2 separate regions of the Homo sapiens genome follow, and region 1 is linked to region 2. The links come from fine-mapping of genetic effects on gene expression. A gene starts in region 2. The other region holds a variant in brackets. All regions are shown on one strand. Distances are between the middles of the regions.

Region 1 (8,000 bases), 160 kb after region 2:
AACAGACCCAGCCACACAGAGACACATATACATGCTGTCCACACAATGGCGGAAGCTGCCCACAGCATCTACCTGGCAAACCGCCACCCTGATGCATGGCGGTATGGTGGTGGCACAAACTGACACAGAAAAGCTGTGCAGGAGAGACACGCAGCACCCCACCCACCCGGCCTCACGGGCCTCTTCACCTGCTCCTGAGGGGCCGGGATTCCATGCTCCTTGACTTTGCATTCCAGACCTGGGGCATGGCAGCAGGAAGCGTGGATGCTGGCCTCCCTGTGGCCCACGCACTGGTTGGGCTGACCTCGTGGCCTCAGCACAGGCGGCTTGTGGGTGCCAAGGTCCTCCACCTCCCAGTGGGAGCTGCAGCCTGGGGCAGAGGAAAGCCAGCTCAGATGTGAAATGCTGGGATGCTCCGTCTCCAGTGCCCATCCCCATCAGACCCTCTCTCTTTAAGGTCTGAGGCAAGAGCTAGGAAACCTAGAAACAACTCAAAGAAAAAAAGAGATGCTGGCCTGAGCACCAGGACTCCTGTGTTCTCAACTCTGCAGCTGACCAGCTGTGTGACCTTGGGAGAGCCATTCAACCTCTCTGAGCCTTAGTTTCTCAGGGAAAACACCATCTTTCCACCCAGAGATGGAGACAGTGAGGCAGGGGCTCTATGGCCTGAGATGCTCAAACTCCCCCCAGCCCCTCCCTATGCAGCCAGCAGGCAGAAGTTCAAGGGTAAGCCGGGGTCTGTCTGAACCACCTCAGAATGCCCTCCATGGGCTTAGGAGTCAGACACACCCATTGGCTAAGAAACCTAAAATAGTGGTTACTTAGCTACACTGAGGCTCTGTTTACTCATTTGTAAGATGGAAAGAGAAACCACACCTACTCACAGGGACACTGTGAAGATGACACGTGCGAAGCCCCAGCATGGAGCCTGGCATGTGCTCTGAACATGGTAGGGTTGTGGTTACTAGCATTCTCTATGTCCTAGCTGCAAGGGCTCGGGGCAGCCACTCAGCATGTCCAGCCTGCAGTTCCCTTAGCTGCAAAATGGTGCTCTTTGAGGTGCGCTTCATGGAGTCAGATTCCATGACTTCAAACTGACATGTGCCTGTGAGCTCATCGGCTGAGCACTTCCAAAGGGGAGCGTGATTAGAGCATGGCGGACTTCCCTCCAAGCCAGGACCCCTGAACCTGACGGAGCCTCTCCCCTGGACAAGGGCACCAGCCACCTGACTATGCTCATCTTTCCTGAACATCCATCCTACATGCCAGCCTGCTGTGCCCAGAACCAGGTTCTCACCCTCACTCTCCTGTTCCCAAACCCTCAGTGGTTCCCCTGGACGTGCTCAGACGAGAATCAACTCTGAGCCTCTTATTCCAGGCTGGAGTCCCACTGTCTTCCCAGACCTCTCATGCTCCACCCAACCAGAACAGCTCAGCCTCAGGGCACCATCCCTTGATGCCCCAAGAGGTCCCCATCTGTGACTTCCTGCTACCTGCCTGGGCATGTTTTCGACACAGGGTAGCCCGTCAATAGTTGCCTATACCAGAGGCTGGATTTTAAAGCAACGGGTGATGAAAACAATAGTAACGATAGCTAGAATTTATATTGTCCCGGCACTAAGCTAAGTGCTTAGCACTCATCATTTCCTCATACAGAGATGTTAAGTAATTTGCCCAAGTCACACAGCTATAGAGCGGCAGGGTGAAATTCAAACCGAGGTCTGCCCTCCTTTCAGCCCCAGCCGGGGGCCTCTCTCTGGAGCTGCCTCTCCTGGACTGCACCACCTTAGGCAAAGCACCTGCGATACTCCAGGCCAGTGCCCTAGATGCTGCCCATCTCCTTGCAACACAATGAGGCAGGTAATACCTTTTTCCCTCTTATGGAGGAGGAAGCTGAGATGAGGAGAAGTAAGGTCACCTGCCCAGGCTCAAAGGGCATGGAAGTGGCAGAACCAGAGTATGGAACTGCAAGTCAGGCTTGAGTCTCATGGATCACACTTGTGAGGACCAAGCCTCGCGGGCAGTGGGTGCATAAGGAGAAAGAGACCCCTCCTCACCCCAGGGCAAGCCCAGCCTCCTACCTGTGAGGACGTGGCCCTGTTGGTGGCAGTGGACACGGGTCCCCATGCTGGCCTCAGCTGGTGGAGCTGTGTGGACGCTGCAGTTGGCCTGGGGTAGCAGGCAGCACCTGGCAATGGCGTAGACACCCTCACCCCCAAAAGCGTTGTGGGCCCGGCAGACCAGCTTGCCCCCTTGGGCCTTAGAGTCAAAGACGGAAATGGGAATCTGCTTTAGAATGGGCTTTGAAAACACAGAAAGGGACTAGACAGGATCAACTCAAGCACCCTCATCAGTGTCCCTGCCAGGGGCCAGCCAGACCCAGCCTTCTGGGGACAAGGAGCTCACTCCTGCCCAAGGAAGACTGTTCTGCCAGTGGGCAGCTCTGAATACTCAAAAGTTCTTCCAAACACAGAGTGGTTTCAAAATGGAGATAGAGAGAAATCCAGGAGGCCAAAGCAAGGATCCAGCCAGCTCCACTCCACCCACTCTGCCTCTCACACGAGCATTAAGACCCCATCTCCTCAAGCCAGAAATGCCTGCCCCTCCTCACTCTCCTAGCTGGGCACTGCCCTTCCACCAAAATGCTGCAACCAGATGGCATCTGTGCACTATCCTGTAGCATCAACATCAATTCCACTTTTTTGCTGGTTTGAGATTTCTCAGCTCCCAGAACCATGGAGCACCTGAGTGAGAGGGGCCTAGAGATGGCTGAGTCCAGAGTAGCAGATCGCTGACCCTCACGCGGCCCTGCCGCACGCTCACACCCAGGTGAGCATTGAAAATCCATCCAGCACTGTCCTGCAGCCTCTAGGAAACCCTTCCCGCTGTGGCTCTCTCCAGCAGCCCCCAGCCGCGTGAAGTGAGGAGTGCCCCACTCCTGGTCTGGCCAGCCCTGTAAGCTTACAGAAGAGCTGGAGTCTGGAGGATGGAGGGGCTTGCTGGGGGTCCCTGAGGGCCCAGCACTGACACACACACACACACACACACACACACACACACACACACACACACACACACGAAGGAGGGGTACAGTCACCTCCATGCGCTCGCCCCGCCGCTTCCCACTCCTGGAGAAACTGGAGCAGCTCAGCAGCTCCTCATCTGGGGCGCAGCGGGCGACGGCTGTGGCCATCCGTGTAGGCCCCGAGTGTGCTGACCATACAGTCCTGCAAAACAGCTGCCAACCTGCAAAAAGGGCCTGGGATGAGGAGGGGGTGCTGGGAGTGAGGGGACCTCCACAGAAATCTTTAGTTCATGGTAGGAGAGAGGAGGGCTTAAAGAACATACTCAACTGTCTCTATAAAAACACGTTATGAAAATATTGCACAGCCCTTTCAGAGCCCCATTCTCATTTAATCCTATTTAAGGTGGCGTCATCCTCCTTACACAGACAAGGGAGAAGGGAGAGACTGTCAAGGTCACACAGACCTCCCAAGCCCCAGCCTGGACTTGCCCACCCTGCCATCCTGCTTACCTGCCCCATGGGTGCTGGGGGGCAGGGCGGCCACCAGGTTGGGGGTCAGTACCCGCTGGTCCTCAGGGAACCAGGCCTCATTGATGACATCTTTGGCAGAGAAGTGGATCAGTCTCTGCCTCAACTCGGCCAGGGTGAGCTCCGGCTCGGCAGACAGCATCATGGCTGCAATGCCTGGTGCAGGGGTGAATGGTGAAAGATGGTGATGGCCCGGCCCTCCTGCCCCAGCAGGGGACTCCTGCCAGTGCACACACGCACACACATACACACAAACACACGTGCACACAGACACTAAGCTCTCTTCTCGAAGGTAAGCCGCCTGCAGTCCTTACTCAGTGAGGTAAGACAGCCTCCTCTCACACCTCTAAGCCTTGGTAGTTGCTGTCTTATCGGCCAGGTGAACTCCTATTCATCCATCAAGCTCCCGATCAAATGTCCCTCCTCCAAGATGCCTTCTCTGACCCTCGGGCTGGGCAGGTGCCTCCTCTGGGCTCCCTCTAATACAGCCCTGACCTCGTGTTTCCTCTGTGCACTCGCCTCCCTCATCAGACTGAGTGTCCTTGAAGGCACCATCAGGCCTACTTCATCTCTGGTCCCCCTGCACAGAGCCTGGCACTGGAGGTCCCGGCACAGACCCTGACTGCCAAAGGGGCTGTTAGCATCACGGTGGCCGAGGCAGTGGGGTGGTGACTTACCAGCCACGTGGGCAGCAGCCTGTGATGTCCCACTCTGTGACACAAAGCAGGTGCTGCAGTCGCTGGAGGCACCAATGATGTCCTCCCCTGGGGCAAAGAGGTCCACACAGCGGCCAAAGTTGGTCCCCAAAGTCCCCAGGGTCACCGGCTGGTCTTGGGCATTGGTGGCCCCAACTGTGATGACCTGGAAAGGTGAGGAGGTGGGTGGCAGAGAAAGGAGCCCAAGAGAGGGGTTGCAGAGGCAGACTCAGGCCTTGCCAGCTGGGCTGGACAACTGCTATACACCTGTTTGGGTCCCACTCAAATGTCCCCTCCTAAGGAAAATCTGACTGCCCAGGCAGAACTCTGGCACCCCTGCCCCGCCCTGGTGCTCCCCTCTGTCCCTACCATAGCCAGGCAGCATTCCCAATGCCCCTGTGGAGTTTACATCCTAGTGGGGGAGATAG[G/ACCGG]AAACTATTCGGTGTATCAAGTGGTTCTAAGTGCCACGGGGGGAAACTGAGAGGACAAGGCAGAGATGTGTTGGGCTTTGTTTGCTTGATGCCTTTAAATTCGGCCGCCAGGGAAGCCTTGATAGGCCAGGGGGGACCTAGGTTACCGCTGTCAGGTACGCATCTGCTCTGCAACCCCCACCCCCAACGCGCGCGCGCGCACGCACACACACAGACTTGAAGTTCCAGACTTGAAGTGGAACAAGATTCCTTCCCCTAGATACCCGCAGTGTCCTGACACTGGAGGAGTGGTGGGTCAGAGGAGGGACGGTCACTGCCCCCCAGCTCCTCAGGGCCGAGGCTCCGTGTCTGTGTCCCCGCAGCCACACTGCACCGGGCATGCGGCACACTCTGTGGATGTTCCTCGGGTGAGAGGTCTGAGCCCTCAACCGCTCCCATTCACATTAGCCTTGCTCAAGTTGTCAGTCATGGAGCCGCGGAGAGAGCTGGACAACAGGGAGGCCCAAAGAGTATTGGGCAGAGGACGCAGGGCCTGGGGATGGAGATGGGGAGGGGGCGGGTACCAGAAGACCTTCAGGAGGGAGAGTGGCCAGGACGGGGTGTGGGGGCGTGGCTACGTAGGCGCCGCTACGTGGGCGCATGGCGGGGCCACTGCTATTCAGACTCTGCGATGATGGAGGTTTCGAGCCCCTTCCTCCCCAGCCTCCCGCATGGCGGGGGTCTCTGACGACTCCTTCCAAAGCCAGAAGGGTTCGGCCTCCAGGAACGTGCCACAAGAAGCCCACGTGCCACAAGAAGCCCGCCTGCCCGCCCGCCCTCCCTCCGCCCTCCGCCCTCCGCCCCCTACCCGCGCCTTGGGGCAGCAGCCCCAGCACCTACCTCGGGAGCTGAGGCTGGGGAGTAGAGGCAGGCATCGTCCCGGAAGTTGCCGGCAGCGGTGACCAGCACGACCCCAGCCCTCGCCAGGCGCTGGCAGGCGGCGTTGAGGACGCGGCTGTACCCACCCGCCAGGGGCAGCAGCACCACCAGTGGCCCCACAGGCTGGACCAGCTGGCTTTTCCGAATAAACTCCAGGCCTGGGAGGAACAAAGCCAAGGTCACCCCTTGGGGAGACCTGCTCCCCTTTCCCAGCCCCTCCCTTACAGGCACAGAGTGATGGTTAATTTTGGGGATCAACTTTGTGGCCTGATGTTTGGTCAAAAGCCAGTGGAAATGCTGCTGCGAAAATATTTTTTAGATGTGACTAACATTTAAATCAGAAGACGGAGTAAGGCAGGTTACTCTCTATAACTTGGGCAGGCCTCATTTAATCAGTTGAAGGCCTTAAGAGAACAGACTGAGGCCTCCCAGGGAAGAAGGAATTCTGCCCCAGGACTGCCTTAGGACTCAGTATTGCAACATCAAATTCTGCAGGAATTGCCAGCCTGCCTGGCCTGCCCTGCGGATTTCAGACTTGCCAGCCCGCACGGTCACATGAGCTTGAAACTCTTAATATATACATCCTACTGGTTCTGCTTCTCTGCAGAACCTTGACCAATACAAACTGGAAGATATTAGCAATTACACCAGCAATCAAACTAGCCAACCCCGGGCCCTTCTCTGTGCCTGGCTCTGTCTAAGCGTCTGAATATACGAACTCAGGGGATCCTCACAATAACCTTATTATCCCTTTCCATGAAAGAGAGGCACCAAGAGGATGAGCCTCAGAGGAATGAGAAGGGCACACTTCCCCACCCAACTTCCCCCGCCACTCTCTGAGGCCTGGCTCAGATGCCCCTCCACCGTGGCCGCAAGTGTTGGACCCACACAAACTTGAACAGAGTCTTGGCTGCCCACTCACCAGCTGTGTGGCCCCGCCCTCTGTGAAACAGGGACAGTTGCTCCCAGGATTGTCTAAAGAATTAAAAGACTCCATGCCTAGGACCCCCCATACCATAACTCCCCACCCTTGAGGGTGTGGTTCCTTCTGGCCTCAGTGGCACTCCACTCCCCCATTTTGGTGCAGGCCATGGTCTACCTCATGCTACTGTCAACAGTAACAGCTCTTTTTTTTTTTTTTCTTTCCAGACGGAGTCTCGCTCTATTGCCCAGGCTGGAGTGCAGTGGCGCAATCTCGGCTCACTGCAAGCTCCGCCTCCCGGGTTCACGCCATTCTCCTGCCTCAGCCTCCTGAGTAGCTGGGACTACAGGCGCCTGCCACCACGCCCGGCTAATTTTTTGTAGTTTTAGTAGAGACGGGGCTTCACCGTGTTAGCAAGGATGGTCTCGATGTCCTGACCTCATGATCCTCCCGCCTTGCCCTCCCAAAGTGCTAAGATTACAGGCGTGAGCCACTGCACCCAGCCACCAGTAACAGTTCTAACCCTCTGCCAGCCTGTGAGCTCTGGCCCAGTGGCCTGGAGACTGGAGGCCTAACGCAGCTCTGGCCCTGATGTGCAAGGGGACCTGGAACTGACAGCTTCTCCCCTGTCAAATGAGGTGTGGGAGCCTTCTGGATCCTGGCCTCTAAGATGTCTCCAGGAGCCGTGGCCAAGGATGGAGCTGGAATCTCACAGCCATGCTCCTCCTAGGAGACAGCTAGTGAGGCCCCTCACACCACGGAGGGAGGGAGTGGAGTGGCACTGAGTGTGGAGGTGAAGAACAACAGCCACATTTACAGCTGCTAGTTATTTACTTATTTATTTTTGAGATGGAATCTCGCTCTATCACTCAGGCTGGATTGCAGTGGCACGATCTCAGCTCACTGCAACCTCCACCTCCTGGGTTCAAGCGATTCTCCTGCCTTAGCCTCCCAAGTAGCTGGGATACAGACACCCACCACCATGCCTGGCTAATTTTTGTATTTTTAGTAGAGACGGGGTTTCACCATGTTGAACAGGCTGGTCTCGAACTCCTGACCTCAGGTGATCTGCCCACCTCGGCCTCCCAAAGTGCTGGGATTACAGGCATGAGCCACCGCGCCCAGCCTACAGCTGCTAGTTATTAAGCACCTGCTGTGTGCTTATCTCTGTGCTCAGACTGGACACACAATCACCTGCTTACAGAGGAGGAAATGGCAGTGGCAAGGAAGGCAATAGTGACTGTTGAGCCCCTGCCCCGTGCCAGGTCATGCAATAAGGGCTTCCCATACACTGACTGGGACCCCAAAGAAGGGACTTCTCCAGGAAGTCCTCCAGAGGCCAGAGCACCAGGCCTGGGGAAGGCCTTTCTGGGAAAGAACAGCCTCCCCTCCACACACTGACCTTCAGGAACTGACCTGACTGAGCCGAGGTCAGTCAATAAAGGGGTGGGACAGGCACAAGGGGTCACCTGATGGGGCAGAAG
Region 2 (8,000 bases):
GAATTTTCCAAGCTAATGAAAGACCTCAAAACACATATTCAACAAATTCTACAAACTCCATTAAGATAAATATAAAGAAAGCCACATCTAGACATATCACACTAAAACTGCTTCAAGGCAAGACAAAAGACAAAAATTGTACACTGCATAAGAAAACAAAACTCAACTTTTCATTCAACTTTTCATTCCAAAGTGGTTACCTAGGAAGGCTAATTGGTTTTGTCTCCTTACTGGGTTCTCCACCTTCACTTTTCCTCCCTTCTAAACCATTCTCCAAACTGCAGTTAGGTTGATCTTTCTACAGTTTAAGTAGCATCACTTCCGTCCTCTGCATAAATGTTACTGTGACTTCTCATTCCCTCAGAATAAAGTTCAATTTCCTTATTACAGTTTGAGCGGCCCTCTTGGAACTGGTGTCTGTCCACCTTCCTAGCTTCTTTTCTCACTACTACATGTTGAGTATCTCTCATCTGAAATGTTTGGGACCACAAGTTTTTCAGATTTTGGACATTTTTGGATTTTGGAATATTTGAGTATACAGAATGAGATACCTTAGGAATGAGACCCAAGTATAAACACAAAAGTCATTTGTTTTATACAAATCTTATTTTTATTTATTTACTTATTTATTTCTTAGACAGAGTCTCACTCTGTCGCCCAGGATGGAGTGCAGTGGCGTGATCTTGGCTCACTGCAACCTCCGCCTTCCAGGTTCAAGCGATTCTCCTGCCTCAGCCTCTCGAGTAGCTGGGACTACAGGTGCGTGCCACCATGTTGGCTAATTTTTTTTTGGTATTTTTAGTAGAGACGGGGTTTCACCATGTTAGCCAGGATGGTCTTGATCTGCTGACCTTGTGATCCACCTGTCTTGGCCTCCCAAAGTGCTGGGATTACAGGCATGAGCCACTGCGCCCAGCCTTTAAACACACCTTATACACCTAAGCTGAAGATAATTGTATTGACTGATTGATTGATTGATTGATTGAGACGGAGTCTCCCTCTGTCGCCCAGGCTGGAGTACAGTGGAGCAATCTCAGCTCACTGCAACCTTCACCTCCTGGGTTCAAGCAATTATCCTGCCTCAGCTCCCGTGTAGCTGAGCTCACAAGTGTATGCCACCACGCCCAGCTAATTTTTTTTTTTTCAGATGGAGTTTCACTCTTGTTGCTCAGGCTGGAGTGCAATGGTGCAATCTTAGCTCACTGCAACTTCCATCTCCTGGGTTCAAGCGATTCTCCTACCTCAGCCTCCCAAATAGCTGGGATTACAGGCGCCCACCACCATGCCTGGCTAATTTTTTGTATTTTTAGCAGAGACAAGGTTTCACCATACTGGCCAGGGTTGTCTCGAAGTCCTGACCTCAGGTGATCTGCCTGCCTTGGCCTTTCAAACTGCTGGAATTACAGGTGTGAGCTATCACTCCCTGCCTGAAGATAATTTTATACTAGGTCGATGCAAAAGTAATTGAAGTTTTTGCCATTGCTTTTAAAGGCAAAACCTCAATTACTTTTGCACCGACCTAATACAAATTTTTAATTTTATGCATGAAACAAAGTTTGTATACATTGAACCATCAGAAAGCAGAGGTGTCACCATGTGAGCTACTGATATGGACAATCTGTGATTGTCTGGCATCATCATCATTCCTGTCTCTGAATATATATGCTACCCATAAGCAATTTTTTTCTTATACCATTCACACTTAAGTACTTAACAGTAAAAAGTATGGCATACCCTTAATACAGTGAAAAAATAATGTGTTCAGGGTACCTAAATAGGGCAGTATCATCCCCAGAATACCTATATTAGCTGTTAAACAACAACAATAACAAACAATGGCAGGCTTTCAGTTTCTACCCATGTTTTGTCTGCAATCCATCACATGAAGTCAAGTGCAGAGTTCTCCACTTGTGGCATCACGTCACCACTCAAGTTTTCAAATTTTGGGGGCTGGGCATGGTGGCTCACACCTGTAATCTCAGCATTTTGGTAGGCCAAGGGAGGCAGATCACTTGAGGTCAGGAGCTTGAGACCAGCCTGGCCAACATGGTGAAACCTCGCCTCTACTAAAAATACAAAAATTAGTTGGACATGGTGGCAGATGCCTGTAATCCCAGCTACTCAGGAGGCTGAGACAGGAGAATTGCTTGAACCTGCAGCAGAGGTTGCAGTGAGCCGAGATGGTGCCACTGCACTCCAGCCTGGGTGACAGAGTGAGACTCTGTCTCCAAAAAAAAAAAAAAAAAAAATTCAAATTTTGGGCTGGGTGCAGTGGCTCACACATGCCTGTTATCCCAGCACTTTGGGAGGCCGAGGTGAGAAGATCACTTGAGCTCAGGAGTTTGAGACCAGCCTGAGCAACATGGTGAAACCCCATCTCTTAATAAGAAGACAAAAAAGAATAAGAAAATACTTTTTTTTTTCAGATTTTGGAGCATTTCAGATTTCAGGTTAGGAATGCTCAATCCATATCTCTCTAGAATTCTATACTCCACTGGCTTTTAATTCCTCCAAATTGCTTTATTCTCACCCACAACAGGACCTTTGCACATGTTGTTCCCGTTCTTTGGAACTTTCTCCCTTCATTTCATATTCCTTTTCCTGGCTTTCCAACCTTACGTCAGATTATAGTTTGAACGTCGTCTTCTCTGGGAAAATTTTCAGTTTTCCTAGACTTGGTAATTACCCCCACAGAGGGCAGAAATTTGCCCCTTATATCCTGAAATTCCCCCATCAAAGCGTCTATCATGCTTTATGACTATTATTTGTCTATTTCCCTTTATTATAGACAGTAAGATCCAAAGGGGTAGAAATTGTGTAATGTTTTTCTCACAATTGTCTCCCTAGTCCTCAGCCTGGCTCAAAGTAGATATTCAATCTATAATTTGAAAACTTACTTATTAACAGTAGAAAACCCTCAGTCTTCAAGATAGTTCATCATACCTTACTTCTCTATGTAGCTATTTTTTTCTTTTCCTTTAGAACCTTTCTAGAGAAAGATGTATGGGAATTGAATGTAATTTAAATTTTTAAAAATCCTCTCAACATTTTCTAGATTTTACTGCAATAAAAATAAAAATGTAAATGAAAAGTATGAATATTCATATCATAGGCCCCACCCCTGCTATCCCAATTCCACAGTTTAAAGTACTCACTTGCTTTCTTCCATGCAAAAAAGTATGATTATACTACTCGCATCCTCAAATGACACTCTGCCTTTTCAGTCACTCCAGGATCCGGTTCCAAAATGGACTTCCTTGTTTTTTGTGGCCTTTTGTGGCTCCTTTCCAGTTTTTATCACAGACTTTGTTTTTCTCTGCTTCCTTCTCTGCTTCCTCTTCTCAGCTAAGCACAGCTTCCTCTGTCATGTTCTATAAACCTGCCACCGTTGATGAGTCTTTTAACGTGCCATCTGATTCAGTCGGCTCTTTCATGACCTTTTAGGTTCTACCTCAAATTTTAGTGGCAAACAATTTTTTTGTTACTTGTTACTTCCTCTCTCCTTGTAATTCATTTCTTAGTAATTAACTCTTCAAACACAGGGCAGAATTGAATGCCCTCACTTTGCCATCATCTAATTTTTGTCTGTGCGAAGAATAGTACCTGGCACCCAGTAAATAGAATCATTTTTATTCTATTTATTAAATTTATTAAATATATTATTTATTGAATAATTATTTATTTATTGAATAAATTTATTCAATTTGTTGAATAAATTCCTCAGCATGTACCTTATGACAGCCTGCTTACATCAGTTTAGATTGCTTTGTTCTTCATATGTCACAGATAAACATTTAAAACTTCATTGTGTACCTGGAAGTTGATACTTAATAAAAATTTTATTTCAATATGTACATTGTGACCCAAACCAATTATAGGCATTCCTTCTTGTCATTGTTGTTCAGAAGTGTGAGGTTTCCTTTTGTTACTTTTAATTAAAAAATTGAGACTTTATTTGCTTTGGATATGAGGCCTAGGCTTTATAATGTCGCCTTTAATGGAAACAACAAATACAGTAACTTCATTTAAAAGTAAACAATAGTGACAAATTCACCCTGTAAATCAAATTGCTGGTATTTATAAACACAGGTGGCAAGTTACTAGGTACGAAGGGTTCGTGGTCCAGGGGAAAATATGCCAGCAGAGTGCAGAGACAATGTCTAGGTACCGGCCCTAATTTAATATTTGGTGTATGTAAAGATCTTCGTGAGTGCTGGGCTGGCAACAGCAGGGGTTTGATGGGATGAAAAAGTAAGGTTAGCTGGATTTCAGGTTCAGGAAGAAACCAGGATGAGGACATTAGAAGATGAACTCAGCAAGTATGTAGGAATAGGCATAGGAGATGAACTCAGCAAGAATGAAGGGATATCCGAATCTTGGGAAAGGGTGGGAAAATAACCTAGAGAACTATGGATTGAAGGAAATTGAAGAGGAAAAATAGCAAGGACTTAGGCCCAGGACGGCTTTGAATGCGGCTCAGCACAAATTCGTAAACTTCTTAAAACATGATGAGATTTTTTAAAAGTTTCATCAGCTACCATTAGCGTTAGAATATTTTATATGTGGTCCAAGACAATTTTTCTCCTTCCAATGTAGCCCAGGGAAGCCAAAAGATTGGACACCCTTGGCTTAGATGGTGGAGTCAAGGGAACTAAAGATATGACCCCAGTGTGCCAATGCCAAAGGTGAGAAGAGAAAGCAAAGAAAGCAGGCCTTTAAAGAGGTAGAGGAATCCTCAAAGGTGGAAAGAAACAGGGATAGGATGCTGCCCAAGAGGCAGGGACAAAGAATCGGAGCCAAAGACTGCGGTAAAAATGTGGGAAGGTGATGTCCACGATGTTCGAACGAGTCCGTGGCCGAAGGAAGTAAGAGTCTGGGTTTCTGGAGGTTTTCATACAGAGAACTGGGATTTAGATTTCGGGCTGGAAAAATATATTTTGGACTCTCAGGGGCTTTCAGGGTAAGAGTTCGGTAGAGTTCAGTCAGCTTGGCGGAGACAGGTAGTCAGTTAATGTTGGAAGGAAAATTCGGACAGCTGGGAATTAATTTCAACGGGTTTAGGGTGATTTCGGCAAGGGCTGGCGGGGCTAGGGTCGAGTGTGAATTTCGTCTTGGGTGGTCCACGCGTCTGGTTTGGGCAGGAATTTCTGTGGGCAGCGAGGCGTATTCAGGCAGCGTTGCGGGTGAATCTGCGTGGGATGAGGGTGGATTTCCTTCAGGACTGCGGTGCATTTCAGGCCGGGGTGGAGGTGCCTCACAGCCGCGGCGCAGGGAATTCCCTCTAGGATGGGGGAGCGGGTCGGGCGGCGCCGGCCAGGGAGGGGAAGTCCAACGGGGGTTCGGAGAGGCTCGGGGGACTCGGACGGAGAGAAGCCGGGTCGCGGCTGCGGAGGCTCGGCCGGCCAAGGGATTTCCGCGACGTTCAGCGCTGCGAGCTGCGCGGCGCTGCGGCCCCTCCCGTCCCGGGGGAACCTGTTGCCGGCGAAACAGGCGGGCGGTGGCGACGATGGAGAAGCCTTCCTCGCCTCTGCCTGGCTGCACGGCAGCCCTTTCACCTTAGGCACGCTCCGCGGCGCGGCCCCTCCCTCCGCTCCTTCGTTTAAAACAAACAGAATACGCCGCCGCCAACCCTAGCCTGCCAACGGCGAGCACGGTCGCCTCCCGTGCCGCTTCCGGGAGCCGAGGCGCGGCCCCGCCGCCCGGGGAGGAGGAGGCGGAGGGGGAGGAGGCCAACATGGCGGCGCGCAGGGCTGGGCCGGGCCGCAGCCGCGCCTGAGCGCCTCACCGCACTAGCTCGGCTCGCAGGACCCAAGCCCGCACCCAGCCTGGCCCGGCTGCTGCGGAGCACCCGGGGCAGGAACGCAGGGGCCAACCTGGGCGCGGAGGCGGCGCGGAGGGTGCGCCGCGCGGCCCGCCAGGCCCGGGACCCGTAGCTTCGCCGTGCGCTGGCCGGGGCGGCCAGGAGGCCCAAGCCATGGAATCGGAGGAGGAGCAGCACATGACCACGCTGCTGTGCATGGGCTTCTCAGACCCCGCCACCATCCGCAAGGCCCTGCGCCTGGCCAAGAACGACATTAACGAGGCCGTGGCACTGCTCACCAACGAGCGGCCGGGCCTCGACTACGGCGGCTACGAGCCCATGGACAGCGGCGGTGGCCCCAGCCCCGGGCCCGGCGGGGGCCCGCGGGGCGACGGCGGAGGTGACGGCGGCGGCGGCGGCCCCTCCCGCGGCGGGAGCACCGGAGGCGGGGGCGGCTTCGACCCCCCGCCCGCCTACCACGAGGTGGTGGACGCGGAGGTGAGGAGGGGCAACCCCAGACCTCTGTGGGAAGCCACTGGGCTGGAGTTCCTGGGAGGGGACACACCCCGCTGGGCTTGGTGTGGGGAGAGAGGGCATTCGACTGGGGCTTTAGTGGGGGCGGGGCGGAGAGAGAGAGAGAAGCCCCAGGCTCCAGTTGGGAACCGAAGTCACTTGATTGGGGGTAAGTGGGGAGAGGGACCCATAGGAGAGGCGTGTGAAAGGGAATTAGGGATGCGCAGCGGAGCTGTGGGTTGGGGTGAGGAGGGGTCCCTTAGGCTTCCGGCTATGCACGCCGACGATGGGGAGGAGGCTCCAGGGCTATCATCCGAGATGGGAGGACAGACACTTGAGCATATAGTGGGAAGGATGCGTGCAGTAGGGGGTCGGAAATGGGGTACTAGTGCACTAGGCTAGGTCGGAGATTTTGTGGCACGAGGTTTCAGTGAAGGATTGGCGGAGGCACCAGGCTCAGAGTCAGAAAAAGCGGTGTGGGCCGGCCAGAGTAGTGGTCTTTGACAGGATCACAGGAAAACTGTTGGGGTTAGGAGTGAGGTTGGGGTTTTAGCCAAGGGTCGGAAAGGGGGGGCATTGAGTAGGATTTAAAATGAAGAGGGAAGGGGCCGCGGCCAGGAATGAGGACTTGAATAAAATCAGGTATGAGAGCAGTGGGGATTGCACTGAGAGGGCAGAGGTGGGAGGCCTGGGCAGGGGTGGGAGCTGAGGAGGGTCTAGGCAGGGATGGGGACTGGAATTGGAAGATAGAGCTGGCACCAGGTCTGGGTAAAGAGGGAGTACTGGTCATCGATAAGGTCAGAAATGAGAGAAAATTAGACCGGGGAAAGAGATGGTAGTCATACTGAGGGTGCTATGCAGAGGGGCGCGGAACAGGGTGGGAGCGCAGTGGGGGTGGAGGAGGAGTCTTGAGGCTAATGGCTTTGATCAGAGACCTCAAGTCTAGGTGGAGAAGACTATGCCTGTTTAGTTTGGGGTGTGAGCAAGGAACGTGGGGGAAGAAAACGGACTCTTCTATAATAAAGAAAAAAGATCGACCAGAAGCAGCAGTGCTTTTGAATAATTACTTTGCAGAAACATAGTAGCTCATGGCAGGAATTTTGGTCAGATTCGTTGGGTAGTTCATTTCAGGGGCCAGTAGAGCAGCTTGGCCTGACCACAGAAAAGCACAGATCTCAAATTATTGGGATTGCGTTATTAGGTAGAGATACGAATTTGGTTCGTTCTTAATGAAGAATTAAGCTTAGTGAAGCTAAGCCTTTTGAAACACTTTTTCCTGAGCAGTGTTATATCCTTTTAATTGTATGCTTTTGCAACAGTTCCTCGGGCTGAAGTAGCTTGAACAAGAAGGTGGCACTTAAAAAGAACAGGTTTCTGCACAAGATTTCTTTGGCTTCCACACTTAGACACAGTTGCTAGATTGCCCTCTGTAACCCACTAACTTAGCTGTATCGTTGACTAGTATATGGAAATAAAGATTGTTACTATTCCTAGTTTGGGAATTTTTTTAAATTCCCATATAATTGAGTAACCATACTTAAGTCATTTTAAGAAATCAGCTTCTCATTGGCAGTTCCTATCACTCCTCCCTCGTTCCTTCTAGTTTTTGACCCAGTTTTGAAATCAAGAAGAAAGCCGTTGCTTTTTCAGAAGGTGTTTGTATAACTCTGCAAAGCTCAGTGTATCC

Direction of the effects. Alleles are on the strand shown, and positions count from the first base shown. SD is a standard deviation of normalised expression in the study named.
For the expression in T cells of the gene that starts at base 3,227 in region 2, ACCGG is the high allele of the variant in region 1 and G is the other (moderate effect, 0.61 SD a copy in GENCORD).

Evidence for each region. PIP is the estimated chance that this variant, and not a neighbour inherited with it, causes the effect.
Region 1: its variant is fine-mapped to the expression of MIR4422HG in T cells (GENCORD, PIP 0.95).

What each region holds. Positions count from the first base shown.
Region 1 is chr1:55,053,745-55,061,744 of GRCh38, reverse strand. It overlaps PCSK9 (proprotein convertase subtilisin/kexin type 9), which reads right to left. Exons shown (of 12, transcript NM_174936.4): 6 at 5,556-5,752; 7 at 4,231-4,414; 8 at 3,536-3,709; 9 at 3,098-3,246; 10 at 2,082-2,259; 11 at 189-370. Among named protein-coding and RNA genes, the nearest start is that of PCSK9, 18 kb to the right of the region's middle. The variant G/ACCGG (reference allele first, on the strand shown) is at 4,677.
Region 2 is chr1:55,213,088-55,221,087 of GRCh38, reverse strand. It overlaps MIR4422HG (MIR4422 host gene), which reads right to left and starts at 3,227. Exons shown (of 2, transcript NR_146283.1): 1 at 3,156-3,227. It overlaps USP24 (ubiquitin specific peptidase 24), which reads left to right and starts at 5,724. Exons shown (of 68, transcript NM_015306.3): 1 at 5,724-6,298. The coding sequence starts at 5,975. It overlaps LOC100507634 (a long non-coding RNA gene), which reads right to left and starts at 5,680. Exons shown (of 1, transcript NR_038320.1): 1 at 3,633-5,680. RefSeq lists silencers at 5,547-6,056, 6,127-6,316 and an enhancer at 6,777-6,836.